Homo sapiens: one gene and its partners. The protein of the gene in region 1 interacts with the protein of each later gene in a biochemical or structural test. Each region holds a gene or a part of one and is shown in the gene's direction. Other genes may lie near its edges.

The links.
Region 2: the proteins of VANGL1 (region 1) and GRIP1 interact in a test that uses a peptide from one of them, tested with the Homo sapiens proteins (one large-scale study listed by IntAct).
Region 3: the proteins of VANGL1 (region 1) and SYNJ2BP interact in a test that uses a peptide from one of them, tested with the Homo sapiens proteins (one large-scale study listed by IntAct).
Region 4: the proteins of VANGL1 (region 1) and PDZRN4 interact in a test that uses a peptide from one of them, tested with the Homo sapiens proteins (one large-scale study listed by IntAct).

The regions. Positions count from the first base shown.
Region 1 is NC_000001.11:115,657,662-115,663,052, forward strand, and holds part of VANGL1 (vang-like protein 1), read left to right. Parts: intron 1-1,979; coding exon 1,980-2,112; intron 2,113-5,391.
Region 2 is NC_000012.12:66,668,358-66,673,748, reverse strand, and holds part of GRIP1 (glutamate receptor-interacting protein 1), read left to right. Parts: intron 1-5,391. UniProt on the Homo sapiens protein: May play a role as a localized scaffold for the assembly of a multiprotein signaling complex and as mediator of the trafficking of its binding partners at specific subcellular location in neurons.
Region 3 is NC_000014.9:70,368,326-70,373,262, reverse strand, and holds part of SYNJ2BP (synaptojanin-2-binding protein), read left to right. Parts: intron 1-131; coding exon 132-272; 3' UTR 273-4,937. Other genes in the region: SYNJ2BP-COX16 protein, read left to right, coding at 132-230. UniProt on the Homo sapiens protein: Regulates endocytosis of activin type 2 receptor kinases through the Ral/RALBP1-dependent pathway and may be involved in suppression of activin-induced signal transduction.
Region 4 is NC_000012.12:41,561,148-41,566,538, forward strand, and holds part of PDZRN4 (PDZ domain-containing RING finger protein 4), read left to right. Parts: intron 1-2,400; coding exon 2,401-2,502; intron 2,503-4,683; exon of another isoform or gene 4,684-5,159; intron 5,160-5,391.

The DNA.
Region 1 (5,391 bases):
GAACACCTCTGTTTTTAGAATCTAACTTTGCAGTTGTATTAGTCTCTTCTTGCATTGCCATAAAGAAATACCTGACACCTTCATAAAGAAATGAGGTTTAACTGGCTCACGGTCCTGCAGGCTTTACAGGAAGCATGGTACTGACATCTACTTGGCTTCTAGAGAGGCCTCAGGAAGCTTACAGTCATGGCAGAAAGTGAAGCAGTAGCAGGCACATCACATGGTGAAAGCGGGAGCAAGAGAGACAGTTGGGAGAGGAGGCGCCACACACTTTTAAACAACCAGATCTCCCAAGAACTCACTCACTATCGTGAAGATAGCACCAAGCCATGAGGGGTCTGTCCCCATGATCCAGACACCTCTCACCAGGCCCCACCTCCAGCACTGGGGATTACAATTGAGCATGAGATTTGGGTAGGGACAACTATCTGAACTGTATCAGCAATAGAGTGTGATTATAAGTTATGCTGTAGGAATAGAATTGTTGTCACTGAAAGATTCCCTTGGCCATGGGAGCCTCCTGGCTCTATGAAGGAATCAGCCAATGCTTATCCCAGGGAGGTAATGATAAGGTCGAAGTTTGACAAGAAATCTACGTTTTCTTAAGCTAAGTAGTAGGTTAACAGAAGATATGTTGTGTGTTAATAGTTCTATTTACATCTCTTTCTCCAAGGTTATACACACTCTGCATCACTAAGTCAAGACACCATTCTTTGACACTGGCTAATAGTAATAGCAATCATAGCCACTGTGCATTAGCACTTACTCCACATCCTTGTACTGAGCACTACTTACATTATGTGGTGTTGTCATTGTCACCATTTCATACATAAAGAAACCAAGGTTTTCAGAGATTGAATAACTTGTGCAAGATCACACATCTGGTAGGGCAGATCCAAGATCTGTTTGTCTCCAAAATCTGCTTCTGTCCTGCCTGGGAGACCTTGGGAATGACGGCAAGTGGTTGTAGGAAGGAGGGCTGATGTCAAGGTGGCTGTGGGGGCAGGAGGCTGAGGGAACTCACTGACCCTTGAGGGACTCCTTAGGTGGGGGATTCTGGGTTTCCTGTTGGCAGCTGGAGGGGGAGTGCCAGTTCCCATAAGTGGTTATTGCCCAGGTTGTGACCTTGGCTTGGCCAGTGATTGGTTCATTTTGGAATTTCATGAGTGACCCCCAGGCAGGGTTCTTACAATCACGCTGGAAGACCACCCAGGAAGTTCCTGTGGGGTAAAATGATGCAGCAGCCTGCTTTCCTCAGGAGGTCTGAAACCCTCCCCATGTACACACACACACACACACAAACACACACACATCCACCCACACACCCTCCACCCCTCTTGGTGTCTTTGGCCTTTTTTCCTAGCTTGTTTGTTTCTATGGGTGTCTTCAAGTTCAACTAGAACCTATGGGAATGACTTAGTTTTGAACCTGTAAGAATGAGAAGTAAACAATTCTTTGTACTGACTTTGAATTTCCTTTCTTCTGTTGTCCAAAGGTGAAGGGTGACAATGTGTCCCAGATTTTTTTGGATATTCTACAAAAAAATAGATATTTTTTTGTAGAAAAAAGCTTATTCTACAGTGTTGTCCCAATTTTAAAAGCCCTAGAAAACTGGTTAAGGCAAATTATAACCAAATCAAATCACTAATTATTACAATAAAGTGTAACTAGCTACAAAAATCCTAAAATTACAATTTTAGGCTTTGAGAAAATATCACTGATGATAGAGGAAGAGTGACAGTCTTTGTTTTGGGTCTTGGGATGGCAGAAAGAAAATATTTAGTAGGGAGTAAAGATCAGTGTACCCCTTGAAGTGTGGTGAAGATGGGTGGGTTTTGATGCTCTGTGTGTGTGTGTGTGTGTGTGTGTGTGTGTGTGTATGTAGAATTTCCCTAAATTCAAAATGATACTTACATTTTGATAAACCCAGAGAGTTAATTAACATGGCATAAATGTGCTAGCTCATTGTTGTTTTTCAGGGAAAGAACTAGAGAGAGACACAAGTCACCCCGGAATAAAGACGGCAGAGGGTCAGAAAAGTCTGTCACCATTCAACCTCCCACTGGAGAGCCCCTGTTGGGAAATGATTCTACTCGGACAGAGGAAGTTCAGGTAAGGATCAAAGGTGGTCTGTAAGCACACTGCCACTTGGCCAAGACTCCTGTCTGTAAATGTTTTCCTTAGGTTCTCTTGGATTTTTGTCTTTATTTTTCTAGCATGCTAATTAGTTTATCTATGTCCCATGGTCTCTTGTTGGTCTAAGGACAGCCTGTCCTGCCCTTTGGTAGCGTGGGGATTCTTCTGAAGTATGATTGGTTGGCCTGCTTTACATGGTGTGGAAAAGTAGCCAGCAAGGTTGACGACAGGGTTGGGAAGGGAAAAGCTGAAGTCTCCCACGACTCATTTCAAAATGGAACAGTATAAGGGGGAGAAGGAAACTCAGAAAACCTAAGAAGTTTAAAAAACATGGGGCAGCCCAGACTGACCATTACTACTAGAGCTATGCAGGAATTGAGAGGCCGCACGCTCAGATGCCTGGTAGAGAAACGTAAGTTAATTAAGGAGGCCCTGGGTCGAAAAGAGGGGGCAAAAATATATTAACCTAGCTTTGGGTTAACAGCAATCTGTGCAGTGCCTCAGTGTCAGTGCTGTAGTGTGGTGTGAAGGAGCCTATGGCTAACTGGAGAATGCATTTCCTCTGTAAAGGAAACAGCAGCTCCGCAGCTCCAGACACCTACTGTTGCTCAGGAATGCAGGGATTCATTGTTTGAGAAAAGCTGCAAATCAGGATTTTATGTGGAATCCTAACTTTACAGTATTTTTGAAATACTGATACTTTATTAATTTTTTTGAACCATTGAGTGGGTTCTTCTCCAGGTTCCAACTGTCTGGCAGCCCACCTGATTTAAATAAACATCTGAGCTATACACAGAAACATGTCTGCATACCCTCTGCACATCCTGAAGTATATATACACATGTCCAGCCTTGCCCCTCATAAACAAAGTGGTGTATGATACACAGCTGTAAAGATAGATATAGGACTATAGATAAGCATACATCTGTACATACCTGTGCATACACACAGGTAAGCATTTATAATCAAATAGGTGGACTGAAACTGGAATTCCTCAGAGTACACAAGGTGTTCTTGGGACACAAAACTACAATTGTGGGTTGAACGTGGGATTCATTGAGCAATGAGCAAATGCCTTTAGTGCTGCCTGCCTTGGCTCTGGGATGGCTGATGGTCGGATGGGGCCAGTCTTAGGATTGGATCACCCTGGAGTACTTGAAGGGGTCAGTTTCCTCCTGGATGTGGGTTCAGAGGTGCCAGTGGCCTACAGCAAAGGCTCTTCTTTCTCTGCATCTCCTCTGCACCTCGTAGCTGAGAACACTTTGAGAAGCTCTTGGTGTTGCCCCAGGATGATCTGGTGTGAAAAGCATTGAGATGGGTGTTTGGAGGCTGTATTTTTTAGTAGCTCTGTTACCTTGAGCAGTCACAGCCTTTGTAGGCCTCAATTTCTTTATTGAAAATCTAGGGGTTTTGATGAAAGCATCTTAGGTGCTTTTTCTTCTAAGAACCTGAAGCTTAACAGGATCCTTTGTGTATCTACATGTTTTAGGCATACATGTGCACCCCAGGAAATTCTCTCATGCCCTTTCTAGTCAATCTCTGCCCCACCCTCACCTCTCCAAGGCAACCACTGTGTTGATTTCTATCACTGTAGATCAATTTTGCCTGTTTTTGAATTTAGTATAATTAGAATCATATGGTCCATCTCCTGCCCCCACCCACCCGCCCTGCTTAGCATAATGATTTTGAGATTTATCCATGTTTTGGTATGTTTCAACAGCTTATTCTTTTTATTTTTGCTGAGTAGTATTCCATTGTATCAGTCTACCACAATTTGTTATCCATTCTCCTAGTGGATGGACATTTGGGTTTTTTTTGTTGTTGTTTGTTTGTTTTTTGAGGCAGAGTCTTGTTCTGTCGCCCAGGCTGGAGTGCAGCGGCATGATATCACCTCACTGCAGCCTCTACCTCCCGGGTTCAAGCGATTCTCCTGCCTCAGCCTCCCGAATAGCCGGGATTACAGGCACGCACCACCACGCCCAGCTAATTTTTGTATTTTCAGTAGAGATGGGCTTTCACCATGTTGGCCAGGCTGGTCTCGAACTCCTGACCTCAGGTGATTTGCCTGCCTTGGCCTCCCAAAGTGCTAGGATTACAGGCGTGAGCCACCGTGCCTGGCTGGATGTATATTTTTATTAATTTTTGGATAAAACCTGAGAGTGGAATTGCTGGGCCATATAGCTAAGTGTATATTTAGATTTATATGAAACCGCCAGAGTGGTTTTCCAGAGGCACTGTACCACGGTCCACTTCCACCAGCAGTGTTGGAGAGTCCTGGCTGCTTCTGGCCATCGTCTGAAATAGGAATTTCTCTCACTGTAGGTGATACTTCTGACTTTGCAAGTTGAAGGATTATTAGTTTATGGGATTGAGACCTTCACCACCACCGCTTCTTACCATAGCCCATACATTTCATAAATCATGGTTTTTTTGGTCATTACTAGATTCGGAGTTATTTGATGATGAGCGATGTCTGTCTTGCTGATTTAGCTACTAACTGAAACTAGCTTTTTCTAAGTTGGTGTCCTAATTTCACCCCCTTTGCCACTGCATCTGACTGTTTTCTTTCCGAGTGAAAGGATACATACAAATTTCAGAGGCAGAAACCTCTTTGGCCTCCTGTGTCTTTTCAGCGCCTTGCTCTTATTGCTTCATTATTGTTGCCAGTTGTTTTTAAACAACAAAATCCTTTAAAATTCTATCAACTGGGTTTTGCTAAGTGAATAGACTAATTGCTTTAACTAGCAACGGCCTAGAAGTTTAAAAAGAGAGGAAGCTAGAAAGTAAAAGATAACATTTTAATAATCCTGGTTGTTTCTATGCCCTTGATGTTTAGTTCCTCGTGAAAACATGTTTTAGAAAGAATTTTTAAGCCAATCTGGCCATACACGGATTCCTGGATTTGCTTAGCTTGGTCCATGAGAAATATTGTTAAAGAGTGCTTGACACTGATGCTTGTTAAGTGGATCTTGTGAACATCATAAGGAGATTTTTTTTTTTTTTTTTTGAGACGGAGTCTCACTCTGTAGCCCAGGCTGGAGTACAGTGGCACGATCTCAGCTCACTGCAACCTCCGACTCCCGGGTTCAAGCGATTCTCCTGCCTCAGCCTCCTGAGTAGCTGGGATTACAGGCATGTGCCACCACGCCTTGCTAATTTTTGTATTTTTAGTAGAGACGGGGTTTCACCATGTTGGCCAGGATGTTCTTGATCTCCTGACCTCCTGATCCGTCCGCCTCGGCCTTCCAAAGTACG
Region 2 (5,391 bases), on another chromosome or scaffold:
TGCTGCTCGTGGTCCAGATTGTGATGGATTTCTTGCTGTGCTTCTAGCCCATGCTTTGAGGGAGTTTACATTGAACAGTGGCTTGGACCGCTTTACTCTCCACTGGACTGAAGCTTTTCGTTTATATAACTAGTTAGAATTATCATAATGGCGCATTTATTTCTCCCCTGTCTTCCAAATGGGAATTGGATGCTAGAAATACTTTACCTCGTTCCAGGAGGTACCCATCCTCCAGAGGAAATTTTGGCTATGCCTTGTATGACCCCATATAAACAAGAAGGAGTCTACACCCTTCTTATATGATTGTAGCAGGTTAGGAAGAAATATCTGGTTCATTACTGGGAAAAGGAGGGCCAATGTAGGATAGGCATTCTAATCGATTAACTTATATACTTTTGGGAAATGTTTAGGAGGAAGAATGGAAATAAGGATAGCTAACATTTATTGAGCACTTACTTTCTGCCAGGTACTATTCTAAACATTTTACATGTACTAACTCATTTAAATCTTGCAATATTATCGTCATTATCCCCACCATACAGATGAAAAAGAAGAGGTTCAGAGAAGTTAAGAATCATTCCTAAGATCACAAGTGGAGGACAGGAGGAACCCCAGTGTTTCATTTTTGCCATTTTTTTTCTCTTCTAGAAACGGATAGAAACCATAGACCTGCCTATCTAGAATAATAAAGAGAAATTAATCAAGACAACACCACACTAATCTCTCAGCATTCCTTATGGTAGGGGAAATAGAATAGACTTAGAAATTAGAAGATATGTCAACCTTTCCTAGCTTTCCTATTTTTACTTGTGTGGCAAAAACAAACAAACAAAAAAACTGAATTTCCCCCACTAAATTTCAGTTTCTTAATCTGTAAATTAAAAATTACTTGTGAAAACTGTTTTATACTCATGTTAGCTATAACAAAATGATTTAATTTTCTACTACAGTTGATTTATTTGAAATTCTTATATTAGTAAATTCACTTTATTCTGGCGGAAAATATATAATTTGATAACTTCCCACTATTTGAGAGGAGGCAAAATACATAGTTTCTAGGGATAGGCAAGCCGTCAGTGTTTGAAACTCATCTTTTTCTCTCTTTTAGTTTCTTACCACTTTTTTGCCCATATACATGAGAATTATGTTAAATTTAAAATTAGTAACTGCTGCTTTATTAAATATACAGAAGAAAATCTTATTTGCAGATTTTTAAAATAATTATTTGTTTCAGTATCGCATATATCCAAAAAAAAAATGCACCCAGATATTTATTACATGTAGCTCCTTAAAGGATGTTACTGCACCCTTCAAACCAAGGAAACTTTGACCTTGCCATTACAAAAAGCAATAAAAGCAGTGGTCTTGGATGTCTCAGTCAATGATGACCACCTAAATTCAGGCAAAGCTCGGGGTATTAGAAAGTGAGAAAGAGCTTCTTACTAATAATTCCAACTACATTATTAAATAGCTGAATATATGAAGAATACAATAAGTTACATTTGTACTAAGGAAATTTCTATTCATTTTCAAAACAGATGAATTAGGAGAAAAGGTAAAACTAAATATCACTAAAGATATGTTGTCATCATAATAATGGAAACCAATGGAGGAAAACAAATTGATTTACAAATTATTATGCTTTTTAATAAGTTGAAATTATATGTATAATACATGTTTTGTCTTACATCTTCTTCCTAATATTCTGCCCATTTGTGCACATTAGCACACACTTGTCATAGGAAACTGTTACTGTCTCTGTAGTATTTCCTTATGTGGATAATATATCTTTAGTTTGTTTCCCAGTTTTCAGTCTAATACATGATACTGAATTGTCTTTAAAGAATTTATTTTGTGCTTTAAATTGTTGCCTTCATGTATCTTCACTTTCAAGTCTTCTGATACATATTGTCTGAGAAATGTGTTTAGGATACACGTCCCACACATTTTCCCCAAGGCTTTCTTAAGCTAATAGAGGTGGCAGAGAGAAAAACAGTGGGAGAAATAGCGTTTGGATACCGTAATATCTAAAAACCAAAGCAAAGATGAGAGAAGGAGAGGCGAGAAGCAGCCCTTCTGTTTTGTAAGTGGGTCATTGCTGACCTTTGAGAGAACAGTTTTCACAGGGTATTGATGTCCAAACCAGATTATAAGGATTCTCTGCATTAAAGGCAACAAGGGCAGACCACTCTTTTAAGAAGTCTGAAGGTGAAAGTTAGGCTGTAGATGGGCAGCAGCCTGTGGGGGTGGAGGGCGGGGTCATGGGGGATAAGGAAGGCTATTATAGGATGGGAGAAATCTGAGCATTTTTTAAAAGGATAGAACCAGTAGGGAGGTAAAATTTCAAGATGCAAACTAGAAGAGGGATGAACTCTAGAACCAGGCAAGACAGTGTGAGTGTGAGACCACGAGACAGATGGCAGCCAGCTAGAGTGAGCAAGAGGGACACTCTTGTCACAGAGACAGGAAAGCATAGGAAGAAAGACTTTGAGGTGGACATTAAGGAAATTAATCAAACTTGACTTTCTTAGTAAATCAGAAGATGAGTCTAAAATCTCCTATTTTTATGAGCACCCAATTCAGGGGTTTCTAAATTTTTCTCTCCATTGGAATTACCTTGTAACCTTAAGAAAATAATGTTGCCTGGATCCAACCCCAGAGATTGTGATTTAATTGCCTGGAAGTGTGGCCTGTTCTTTGGCATTTTAACACATTCCCCAGGTGACTTTACTGTGTTAGCTGAGTTTGGGAGCCATGGACCTAACGTACTGGCAGCTTCATAGAGATGCTACTAGATATGTTTCAGCCAGAGACAAGCCCAGGAATTTTACTCAGCTGCTAGAAGGGAGAAGCTGAGCAGATATAAGGGCTATGAAACTGCTATAGCCTTCCTGTGACTTTGAGGGCAGAGCCTGTCTGAAAATGGCAGTGGATCCAAAAGAAAGAGACACCATATCTGACTGTCATCACTTCAGCCCCTGCTCAAGAACTACCTTAAGGGAGCTCTGAGCTCTCCCTTAGACTTCTTCAGTTAAGTTAGCCATTAAATGTCTTTAACACCTAAGCCCATTAGAGCCAGGTCTTTCTGTTATTTGCAATCAAAAGAGGCCTGATACAGGTTATAACGCATTTGTGTGTATACATTTTGGTGAGAGTTTTGAAGACATAGTTTAAAAATGACAGTTGACTCAACCATTTGCTGAGTCCACTCCTGAGTTGCTCTCATTCCACAGAACTGTGTGAACACCCCTGCAAATCTGAGCCTGCAGTCCTGTATGAAGTTATGAGCGCCACTGCTAACGTAGGATTTCCAGTGGATCATTTTGTTAAGTCTTCAAGTCTGCCCTCCTTGGCAGTCCACATCAGCATAGACTGGAAGGAATGTTCCATGGGGATGGAAATGAATATTGTAATTTTCATGTGATTTTTTGTCCTTACTATTTAGGGACCTAAGGGCTAACTGATCTCTCCCTTTCTTCTCCCCTTATGCGGAAGGTTATTATATGGAGAAAATAGTTGAAAGGCAGGGTTATAAAGTTTTCTGCTTTGGTTGTATGCGGTGCAATGTTCTGAGCATCTCAGCTCTTCTCATTGCTCCCTCTTCTCTTCTGTTACTTGTCTTCTTTCAATGCTAATGGACATAGCTACTCATGCAAAGGAGTTCACCCTCATTTGTATGGTGCAGAAAGTCTGTTGCCCTAGCCCACAATGAAGAGTAGACTTCATTGGTTAAAGTCATCTTCTATGGAGCCAATTGTTAAATGTTAAAGAATTTTTTGAACTAGCTTGTAAACACAATCATTTAAAATTATATAAATTTGCAATTAAATGATATTAAAAACGGAGGTAATGAATACTAACAATTCATCATTTTCTAATCATTACTACATTTTATGTTCTGTGCTCTTGAAGTCTACTCTATCTATGTGGGAGAGCTACTCTATAATGGTGTGCCACACATCTCTTAGCAACTCCACATTCAATGACATCAAGTTGGTAGACTGAAATTGGCCATAGTGGGAGTATTTACACCAGAGACATTGATGGATGCTATAAATCAAGGCATGCCCCGACAAAGCCACTTGTTAAACATTTACCAGCACACCACTGAATAGGTACTCCTGCTCTGTGTATTCATAAACCTGTATAGATGGCTTTCATTATGCTTTCTACATTTGATGATAATTCTTTGTTTATCTGTATACAACCATCAGACTATGAATTCCTTGAAAATTAGTATCCATGCTTTACTTACCATTATGTCACTGGCAAGTACAAAGTATTTGGTACAAAGAAAATGCCCAATAAGTATCTGTCGAATGGATAATGTTAATATTTATTTATTTATTTATTTATTTATTGAGACAGAGTCTCACTCTGTCACCCAGGCTGCAGTGCAGTGGCACGATCTCAGCTCACTGCAGCCTCCGCCTCCTGGGTTCAAGTGATTCTCTTGCCTCAGCCTCCCGAGTAGCTGGGATTACAGGCACCCATCACCACACCTGGCTAATTTGTTGTATTTTGGCCCGGCTGGTCTCAAACTCCTGACCCCAAGTGATCTGCCCACCTTGGCCTCCCAAAGTGCTGGGATTACAGGTGTGAGCCACCATGCCTGGCCAAATGATGTCAATTTTTAAAGATCTCCGGGCTTAACCAATCCCACACATTTGTTTTGGGCTTGGAGTGTTTCAGATAATGCCTTTTCTTTTCATCAGAGTTCTTGATTTTTCACATCACATGGGGAAAGAAAGCTCCAGGAATATTCTGAAGATCTTTTTATTTTTTGCTTATTTGTTTCTTTTGAGACAGGGTCTCTCTGTTGCCCAGCTGGAGTGCAGTGGTGCAATCTTGGCTTACTGCAGCCTCATCCTCCCAGGCCCGAGCAATCCTCCTGTCTCGGCAGCCTCCCTGCCACTCCCCCAACCCCCAAGTAGCTAGGACCCCACCATGCTGGTATTATTATTATTTTTTTTTCTTTTTGATAGTGATGAGGTCTCCCTATGTCCCTATGTTTGCCCAGGCTGATCTTCAACTCCTGGGCTCAGGCTATCCTCTCATCTTGGCCTCCCAAGGTGCTGAGATTACAGGTGTGAGCTATTCCTGCACTCGGCCTTTTCTGAGGATCTTTAGTATCCTCTAACATCTGCTGATTTCCCAATTTCCTATTTAACTAGAGGGGTGTTCCATACCTTCCTCCTTCCCCTCCTCCTCCCAAAGCCTGCTCAAGGCTGTCTGGAGGAAAATACTGGCAGGGGACCAGAAACAGCACCAGGCAGCTGGAGGCTGAAGGACAAACTATTGTTAATTCTGCATGACAAAATTCCCAATTGAATTCAATCTGGGGAATATCTAGGACCCCACAGAGTTTCTGATTGAATTGAGTCTTTTCTA
Region 3 (4,937 bases), on another chromosome or scaffold:
TGCTAGGTATTGCTGGGGGTTACAGTTTTGGGTGGTCTAGAGTCTACAAACCCAGGTGATGTATCAACCTGGGCGTTTCAGTTGCAAACACACATTAGTCACTAGAGTTAACATTTTTCTTTCCCTTCCAGTTACAGGTGCAGAATGGACCTATAGGACATCGAGGTGAAGGGGACCCAAGTGGTATTCCCATATTTATGGTGCTGGTGCCAGTGTTTGCCCTCACCATGGTAGCAGCCTGGGCTTTCATGAGATACCGGCAACAACTTTGAAAAACTTGCTCTCTTTCAATACTCCCAATGAAGATACATTTCACTCACCCTCCACCCCTGCTATTCTGCCATGTCTTTCCCTCTCTCTGCATAGCCAGATTTGAAGTGACTGATACCCACCCCAAACCTTGCTGTTCACAGTCTCCAATTCTTCATATTCTAATGGGAAAGTAAAGGTATTGTTTGAAGGAAAACTGAAGAAAAGACTTGGCTTAGAACAAATGAGGAGTTATATATTTTACTAGGACTTTTGATAGAAATTCAGCTACAACCCAAAGAGAGAAAGATTGAGTCTTCCTGTCACCATAGGCAATACCTTTTTTCTTAGCTGGCATGCCATAAAGGCCAGCTATGTGATATTAGAGGAAGAAAGGATTTTTCTTTTTAATGATCTTCCTTGGGAAATTATTGTGGCCTTTATTTAATTTCTAACTACGTACCTGGGTGCCTATATCGACAAAGAGTGAGAAGAGCATTTTTACTTTTTTAAAAAAGCAAATACATATATACACATACGTATGCAAATATTATAGTATAATAGTGATCCCTATGGAGAATTAAAGGTGAGAAAGCTACTTTGTGGTGTCTAGGTTTCTGATAAAAGGGATGATCTTAACTGAAGAATTTAAAGAGATACTTAAACAGAGCAAATGTAGTAGGAACAAGGGAGTGAGCCTTATAAGAGGACGTTCAGTCTCATTTATTAAAATAATAACTGAGACTGGGAGAGGTGGCTCATGCCTGTAAATCCCAGCACTTTGGTAGCCTGAAGTGGGAGATTGCTTGAGTCCAGGAGACCAGCCTGGGCAACATAGCAAAACCTCATCTCTATTTAAAAAAAAAATAGAAAAAAATGTAATAACTGAAGCAACTAATTAAAAATCTTAGAAGAACAATATTTATTCTTATAACAGCCAACTATGGTGAGTTATTATAAGGTAAATTGCCATAATCCAGCGCTGCTCACATCTAAAAAACTTTGAGGTGTAAAGGTAAATCGTACCAATCTCTGGGCTGCCCTAGTGACTTTTTTGATACCTCAGAGTCCTATTGAAGAACCAGGTGGAATGATTGTGGTAAGGGCTATAGTGCTGGAGCCAAACACCCCAGCAAGAAAACTCTAAAAGGACAAAAGATAAGGTAGTGCCTCCAAGGTGGCACCTGAACCCTCTCAGGCTACTTTTTGGTTTCTACTAACAAACCTGAGGGAAGGAACTGCCTCCCTGGCAGGATGGGCATCAAATCAACTCTGGCTTCAGATTTAGTTAAAATGAGGCCGGGTGCAGCGGCTCACACCTGTCATCTCAGCACTTTGGGAGGCCGAGGCAGGCAGATCACAAGGTCAGGAGTTCAAGACCAGCCTGGCCAACATGGTGAAACCCCATGTCTACTGAAAATACAAAAATTACCTGGACATGGTGGCGCGTTCCTGTAATTCCAGCTACTCAGGAGGCTGAGGCAGGAGAACTGTTTGAACCAGGACCTGGGAGACGGAGGTTGCAGTGAGCCAAGATCACGCCACTGCACTCCAGCCTGGGCTACAGAGCAAGACTCCATCTCAAAAAAAGAAAGGCATGGATTGCTAGTATTTTTGAAAGGCTTTATACACTACATACGGCTTTTAATAAACCTTTTTGCAGCAAGAGGGAGGAAAAGAGTTTTGTTTGCTTTAGGAGGTAGGGAAATGTGGTAGGTGTTTCATGCGGCCTAGGAGGAGGATATGAATGAATGGATACTATGGAATGCCAGTGATCTCGATAAGGTGGGAACCATCCTGTTCATGTTCTTTTAAGGCTGGTTTTAAGCACTATGGGTAGCTGAATTTTCTGGCTTTAAGAAAATCATTTCCATTAGCCAAATATATTGGCCATACTATAGGCCTTTTATAATTTTGTTAGCAAGATTATCAGGACTCAGGCAATCAACTGTATTTCATTTCTAGCTTGGACAGTCTGGTAATTAAATGTTGATTGGACATCAGCTTTGTCAAGACACTTTTACAAAGAAGTACAGTGCATATCCTCCATCCCATAGGGCTTTTGGGTTCCAACTGCGAAGACAACACTCTTATTGGCCACATAGGTAGGACAGTGTAAGTAGGGGTCATGTTTATATTACAGACAGCAAAAGAGAAAAGTTACTGAGAACTGGGGCGTTTGAGAAAGTTACGTGGAGGAAAGGGACAAGTTGAAGACCCTTAAGGGCCTCACAGCCTAGTTAAGAGAATTCATAAACAGGTGAGAAGTTAAAAGTATATCAGCAGGCTAAGTATTGAAAACAATATTAAAGGGGTACCATGCAAAACACGATGCAGCAACAAAGAAGATATGCAGGTAATCATCACATTTTCTTTTAGAAATTCAGGGAAAAAAAGATGTCACATAATGGCATCAGGCTCAATTGGAAAGGGAAGGCTTTTGAAAATAAGAGGTCCGGTAAGACCTTGCCTCTGGGTCACTACTGGTATAGGGAGAAACTTGCTTTAAACAGTCCTGACATAAAGTGCCTTTTGACATCAACTATTCAATACCTTTGAGACTCACTTAGACAACTGGACTCATTGTAGGTTCCACAGAAAAACACGGACAACATTCTAGTTGTCACTCCAACCAGCCACACTAGGAGGGCACAGCCTCTGGTACCCTTTCTGTTCCTGAAGGCATGTACAGCGGCTTCTACAGCAAGCTTGCTTACCTCCCAGGATTCACCTCATGGTTTGGACACTGATTCCTGAGAGAGCCTTGAGACACACAAAGTGAAAAAAATGTCAAGCAGGAATGAAAGCTCTAGTTTTTTGCTTGTTGGTATATGTAAATTTGTTTAAAAAGTATCCATTCTGTCGTTGGTAGAAGTTTTGCTTTGGTTGATAATAGAGATTCTGATGTACTCTTATAACTTAGGTTTTCTCAGAAATTAAGTAGCATTGAAGATCAATGTAATACAGTTTTAAGCAGGTACACTAATTATATTATTGATTCTATAGAAAACTAAAATTATAGATGAGGTATCAGGATCCATTATAGGTTGTAAAAAAATTCATGTTCTTCATAGATTGAGTCTAATATTTCTTCTATAGATTGCATCTAATGTTCCTACTACCTAAATTATTACGTTCAAAGTTTTGAAAATTGAACGAAGGTATTTTTAAGTACTTAAAACATTTCTCTATCATTCTGTATTACATGTATAATTATAAGATATTGTTTGCTTCAACTAGCTGTACTTTGTTTTCCTGTGAAGTTTCAACTTATGTGTTATCGATTTAACTTAATTGTTCCATCTAGCCATGTATAATGGAAAAAGGAAGTTAATATTTGTTATTGTGTTCTATGCCAGGGACTGTACCAAACTCTGATTGGTACATTATTTCATGTCTCATAACTCTGGGATCTAAGTATTGTCACAAAGAGACTAAAAATGAGAGAAAAAATTACTTGACTAGGATTATGTAGGTGGTAATAATAGAATCAGGATTTAAACTCAGGACTTCAGATGCCAGCATCAATGATATTCTCTCACTGGAAGTGGTTCTCAAAGCAAGGTCCTGACAAAAGCATCAGCGTTACTGGGGAACTTGTTAGAAAAGCAAGTTCATAGGCTGGGCATGGTGGCTCATGCCTGTAATCCCAGCACTCTAGGAGGCCTAGGCAGGTGGGTCACTTGAGCTCAGGAGTTTTGAGACCAGCCTGCACAATGTGGTGAAACCCTGTCTTTACTAAAAGTCAAACAAATTAGTGGTGCATTCCTGTAGGCCCAGCTACACGGGAGGATTGCTTGAGCCCAGGAGACTGAGGTGCAGTGAGCCGTGATTGCTCCACTTCATTCTAGCCTGAGCAACGGAGTGAGACCTTGTCTCAAAAACAAAAAAACAAACAAACAAAAAACAAAAAGCAAGTTCCCAGAAGAGAAAAAAGAAGTTCCAGACCTAGTGAATCAAAAACTCTGAGCGTGGCATCTCACAATCTGTGTTTTTGTAATCCTTCCAGGTGACTGATTCATGCTAAAGTTTGAGACTCATTGCTCTATGCCAGTCATCATTCCCTTTGCTCAGGTTAGAATCATCTGGAGAGCTTATAAACGTCCCCATGCCCAGGCTGCACACAGATCAATTAAAAGGAACCTCTGAGGGTGGGACTCAAGCAGCAGTAAAATAAAGTTCATTGAGTGATTCTGGTGTGCAGCCGCAGTTGAAAATGTTATATAGCATTTAAACAAGACACTATTTAATTAAACACTATTTAAATTATTAAATTACATACATTGCTTCAGGCAAAACAACAACAACAACAACAACAACAAAAACTTGGGCCTTTAGAGCCCAGCTTCCTGAGCTTCTGCACGAAGTAAGTGGAACATTCATTTCTTCCTGATTTGCTAAGGATTGATCAACCTCCAGCAAAATGTATGATTAGTGAGTGTTTCAGTTGGTGCATCAATTAAATGAGAACCAATCATAGAACATTGAAGCTAAAAAGGACCAGAGAGCTTCTAGGATGAATCTGTCTTAGAGATGAGAAAAATAAAGGCTCAGAGAGGGAAGCTAACTTAACTCTGATCAGACTTAGTTTGTTGCAGAAGTGACCTTTCTGTCTCATATTTATGTCTTGAATATATTCACTACATGAATACACAGACTACCCATTTTATCTTAGTCTACTTCTTTCT
Region 4 (5,391 bases), on another chromosome or scaffold:
GTTTCCTGATGGTCCTCTAAGAGTTAGAAATACATATGAGGTAGATATCTTTTAAAATAAAACCATGTTTACTACTATGCATTTAATAACCTTCTATAAATTTCACTTTATTTGCTTTATTTAGCACGAAAGAGTCTTGTCTTTACTAAGGATTAAAATGTAAATGATGATAGTAATAACAACAATAACAATAGCATCAACAGTAATATGTGCCAGCATTGAAGACATTCTATGTACCAGGCACTATTTAAGATTTTTACCTGTATCGACTCATGTAATCCTTATAAAGACCCTCTGAGAAAGGCACTATTATTATATGCATTTTAAGATAGCAAACTTAATAGCAGCATTAGACTAACATGAATAAGTATTTAGATTAATGGTAAGTGCAATTTAGATGAAGAATGAGGAAATATATATTTTTTATATATATTATATATATTAAGTTATATATATAAAGACTATATATATATATATATGTACAGTCAAGTGGAGACCAGGAATAAAAGAAGTGAGAAGTATATTTCAAACAGAAAAGATGAAGATAAGCTGTGTAAGATCACCCAATTCAATTCTCTTAGGATCAGATGTGCCTGTAGTGGAGAGGAGATGAATAAACAGGTCCATGTTTGACAGACAAATAAATGCATTGCAAATATATTACTAAGAATTACCATGAAACAGACATAAGCCCTCAAAGTGCAAATAGAGTAAATACTACAAAGTCATTATTTTAAAACTACACTTAATAGAGGGTAGGGGAAGTATAGTGGAATCCACCACTGCCAATTTATCTTTATTTGAGAAAAAAGGCCTTGGAGTCAGTACACACATACTTTTCCAGAGGTATTTATGACAAACCGCAACATATCCTTCCCGGTCATTATTTCCCATTGTGGAATCGTAGCTTCTGTTTCCTAATTGGATGAATTTTATTTGTGAATTGCAAAAACAAATAGGGAATGCATGTGAAACTTATAACCACTGAATTTCCTTTCTGTGTATACAAGTGAGAAATGACAGTGATTGGAGTAAGAAAATACAATTTGTGCCCATATATATATATTTTTACTATTATTGCCTGCTTTCCTTGCACTAAATACATATAAGAGTATAGGAATAAGGATTATTTATTGTGGTTCAAGGTTGAAATTCATGGGCTTGTTTTCAGATAATTATGTCTGTCCTCATGCATCAGCCAGAAACCCAGAGACCTATGAGGAGAAAAACCTCAATAGTCTACTTCATGCTTTTAAGCAGAAGTCCTTAGTGAAAGACATTAGATTATTGAAAAAAGAATGGTCAGTGCTGCTACATTTTCCATCTGCTTCATTTATTCAAGTAATTAATACTATTTTAGACAGAATTACTTGATCTCTTTAATTGGAATTTCTTTCCCATTATTTGATTACATATAATTATAAATCAAAAATCTTGCTGTCTCTATGGAGTTGAGTAATCAATAAAAGAAAATAATTATTAAATATCCAAAGGAAAAAGTTTTATTAATTAAGAGCTAAATATATTTGCACATGAAAATGTAGTTTAAAAAAAGAAACTTTACAAATCTTATTTACTTTTTCTTTAGAACTTAGAAAAAGTAAAAAGATATATTTCTAATGTCACTGGAATCTTTTCCATGAAATCTAAAGTTTAGTCAAGCTTGGTTTCTTTCACTCATCATTATTTTAAAAATTCAATTTTACTCTATGTTAATATTTTTTAAATTTTTAAATTTAAGAGATGAGTCTGAAGATATTTCATTAGTTGTATTACTTTAGGAAATGGATAGATATTAGAAGGGAAATGGAGTATTGATGAGAATGTTATTTTACTTTGATCAGTTAAACACTGAGATTTATCCTGACGATGATGTTTGGGCAACTGGGTCAGACCCACACGCAAATATGAAATGATTAAATAAAAATGCAATCAGCAGTGGCCTGGGAGCATTGCCTGGTGAGAGATAATACTGCAGCTCTCTAATTGGCTCGCGGCAAGCGTGCAGGATGACGGATTTCAGTTGTGGTATTGCCAGTCCTTCTTCCCCCAGCACTATTATCTCAGAGTGACACTTCCATTACTCTGAGCGAAGAAAGATGAACGTCACCTGTCAGGAGCTGGTTAATTGTGTTGCTAGATGTATGTTGCCAGGGCGCAGGTTGGACATTTATGAACATAACTGCTTCCTCTGATGTCCGCCATCCTTCACGGATCGATATGGCTCTTACAGTAAGCGCGTAATTGAGTGAAGGCACTTTGAGCTGAGGGGCTGAAGATGAGCCCATTGTGTGAGCTTCATTGTCCATACATTTACCATAAATGAGCTGATATTTGCCATTTATTGTGTGCAGCATTGTGGAAATGGAAACTAATGTGCCACTCTCATTTGTTTTCTAGATAAATGGGGAAGATGTCCAGAATCGAGAAGAAGCAGTGGCCTTGCTGTCTAACGATGAGTGTAAGAGAATCGTGCTGCTTGTTGCAAGGCCAGAGATTCAGGTCAGAACAGAGATCAAAAGCCTTGAGACTGAACTTTATATTCATTGAATTCACTGAATGTAAATTCGTGAATGAATTATATTCATTATCTGCTATTCTCTATCAAATCATTATCACGGTTATCTCTCCCCATATAACCCACCAGATGGCCTATGTGGGAGTGAATTTTAAAAATAGATATGAAAGCAATTAAGGTATACAAAATACAATAAAGACTGATCTTTCCTAATTTATCAAAAGTATTACACATTAAAGACTTCCTTATATTGCTCCATAGAATGGCAGCTAAATATCCCTTTTAAGGGGGGAAAAGCATACCAAATTGAATTGTGATTCTCTCCTTCAATTTGCCACTTACTTAAATAAATACTCAAATGAAAAATGGCTGTGTGGATCCTTTTAATTCTGTGTGGATCCTTGCTTTAAGTTTCCATCTGAAAATACTTAAATGGCATATGAAGATATCTTGGAAGAAGCTCCACGAGAGAAACACTAGCCTATCTAGTCATCAACTTAAATCTTTTTAAAATAACTTTATCAATTAGAATGTCTTGTATAGCATGATCTGGTTCCATGTATAGTAAATGAATTGTTTCCAAGTTTAGTGTGACCAAAACAATTGTCCAGCCAAAAACTGATAACTTCTAAATGAATTTTTTAGATCTTTATGGAAGAAGATGTCATGAAAGTAGAGTAAAGGTAATGGAAAAAAAGTACTATTGGGGCTTCCTTTTATATCCTTTTTATCTCCCATCACAAGGCAGAAGGGACAAAACATTGTCACCAGTCTATCTATCTGTCAGTAGTTTGAATAAAGTTAGTTATATCGCCATTTGTCTCCTCGGTTATTGATATGATATTTTTCAGACTCAGTAACTACATACTATCTATAAATTACATTGAGTAAGTGTATTTCAGTGTCAGACTGAATCCTGACTTGAATATAGTGGTTATAAAAGATCACCCTTTCTGCATATATTTCGTTTATGCCCTTGCCCATTCTAAATGGTTCTCATAAAGTCTGCCATAGCCTGGGGCAGAGTAAAGTTACACACCTGAGGTCTTAGGAGTGGGGAAAAAAGCCCACAAAACCCCCACACTGCCTATGTGGGAGTGAATTTTTAAATACATATGAAATTATACCAATTATCTGGAAATTTCTCAACCCAGTTATCTCGCTGCTCCCATTTTCTTCAAAAAAGAACATAATAAAGGGGCTAAATGCATATTAGTGAAATTTATGATAAATTGAAGTTGCCATCTCTATTGTAGAGAAGATATTTTTATGTTATAATGTGGTTTCCCTGCCCTTTCCATGTAACTGCTAGAGAACCTCATTAATTTAGAACTAAAGCATTTCCTTAAACTATGCCACATAGTGGCCATAATGGGCTGTAGAAATAATAGAAATTAATAACATAGACCAGATCCTGTTAATCTTTGATGGAATACATATGCTGGGTAGAACCAGTGGAAAATTTGAGTATCTGGCTACACTTCTGACCTTTTTCTCCAAAAGAGTCAATGCTGAAGGATGAATTTTCAAATGAGACTTCCCTTTCCACATTTGATGAAAGATGGTTGTCTGACTCCATAGGATGCTGTCCTGCCTGTCAAAATTATGATCTGCATTAGCCCCTTGATCCTAAAGAAACCTTCATGACACTGGAAGGAAGCTAATTGCCTATAGAAAAAAAAAACAGATTTCCAGAGAAATCAGGAAAAGAAATACATTTTAATACCATACTTTTAAAATGTAATTTAATCAGTACATGCTATAAAGTGGCAAAAAAAAAACTAAAAAAAAAAAATCTTGTCTTTATATCACCCATATTTTTCCATTGAACTCAATTTATCTCATTGTTGTATGTTTTTTTTTTGCGTGTGTATTTTATTCGGGGAGAATGTGGAAGCTTTTGTGTGCTTTTTCTAGCTTTTTTTAAACATTTTTAACGTTTCAAATACTCTCTAGATTCTTGGAAATGATCTACAGAGTTGCTGGGGGCAGTATTGTACATCTGTGCAATATTTTTAAATAACTCATTTTCCTCATTTCCTGTCAACTCTCTTTCATTTTCTGCCCATTTTCTTCCTGAGACCATTAAAGATATTGCTTTTCTGTCCTATTTCCCTCAGGACACTGGGGCAGAGAGGATTCTCATAAGAACTTGTAGCCACTACCTTTGAGACAGTGTAGGTTGTTCCTTTTTCTGAGATGCCACATGTGGCCCCCTTTGGTGCAGATAGATCCCCACTCTTAGTAGTAACAATCCCTCTTTTCCTGCAGCTCAGCTCAAGGGAGATGTCTGTCTCTGCCGTTACATTAGACTCAGACCATAGTGAATGTACATCTAGGTAGAAAGGGGGAAATAGGAGAGAAGAAGGAAGTGAGCAAGAAGAATCTCCCTTTGCTAATTGTGCTGTGTGCACCTCCAGCCTAAAAGAAAGCCTTATCAAAATAGACATATAATGACTATGGCTGGCAACTCAGGAATCTACTGGATTACTCAATAAGAAAAGAGTTATGGGGAATCATTAATTTTGACCATTTTCTCTTTATTTTCCCCACTACTTCATTTAATCCTCAAAGGACTCTGTTTCATCATTCAATATATCAGTGTTAGAAAATACTTTATTTTGACCTGATTAAAGAAAAATTCCTTGATGTGTTTGTGAATAGTAAGCACTCCCCATTTTAAGTAATTTTTTATGATGTCTGGCATTTGTAGCTTTATGATACTTGAAAAAGATTAAAGAATGTAAAATTTGAACAATTATAAATTGGGCTGAATTTACATTTTTACTTGGCATAATTTTCATAGCTCATCTGCATATCAAAGTCACAGGAATTTGATCAAATTATTCAGGCGACATTAAGATAAATGAGGA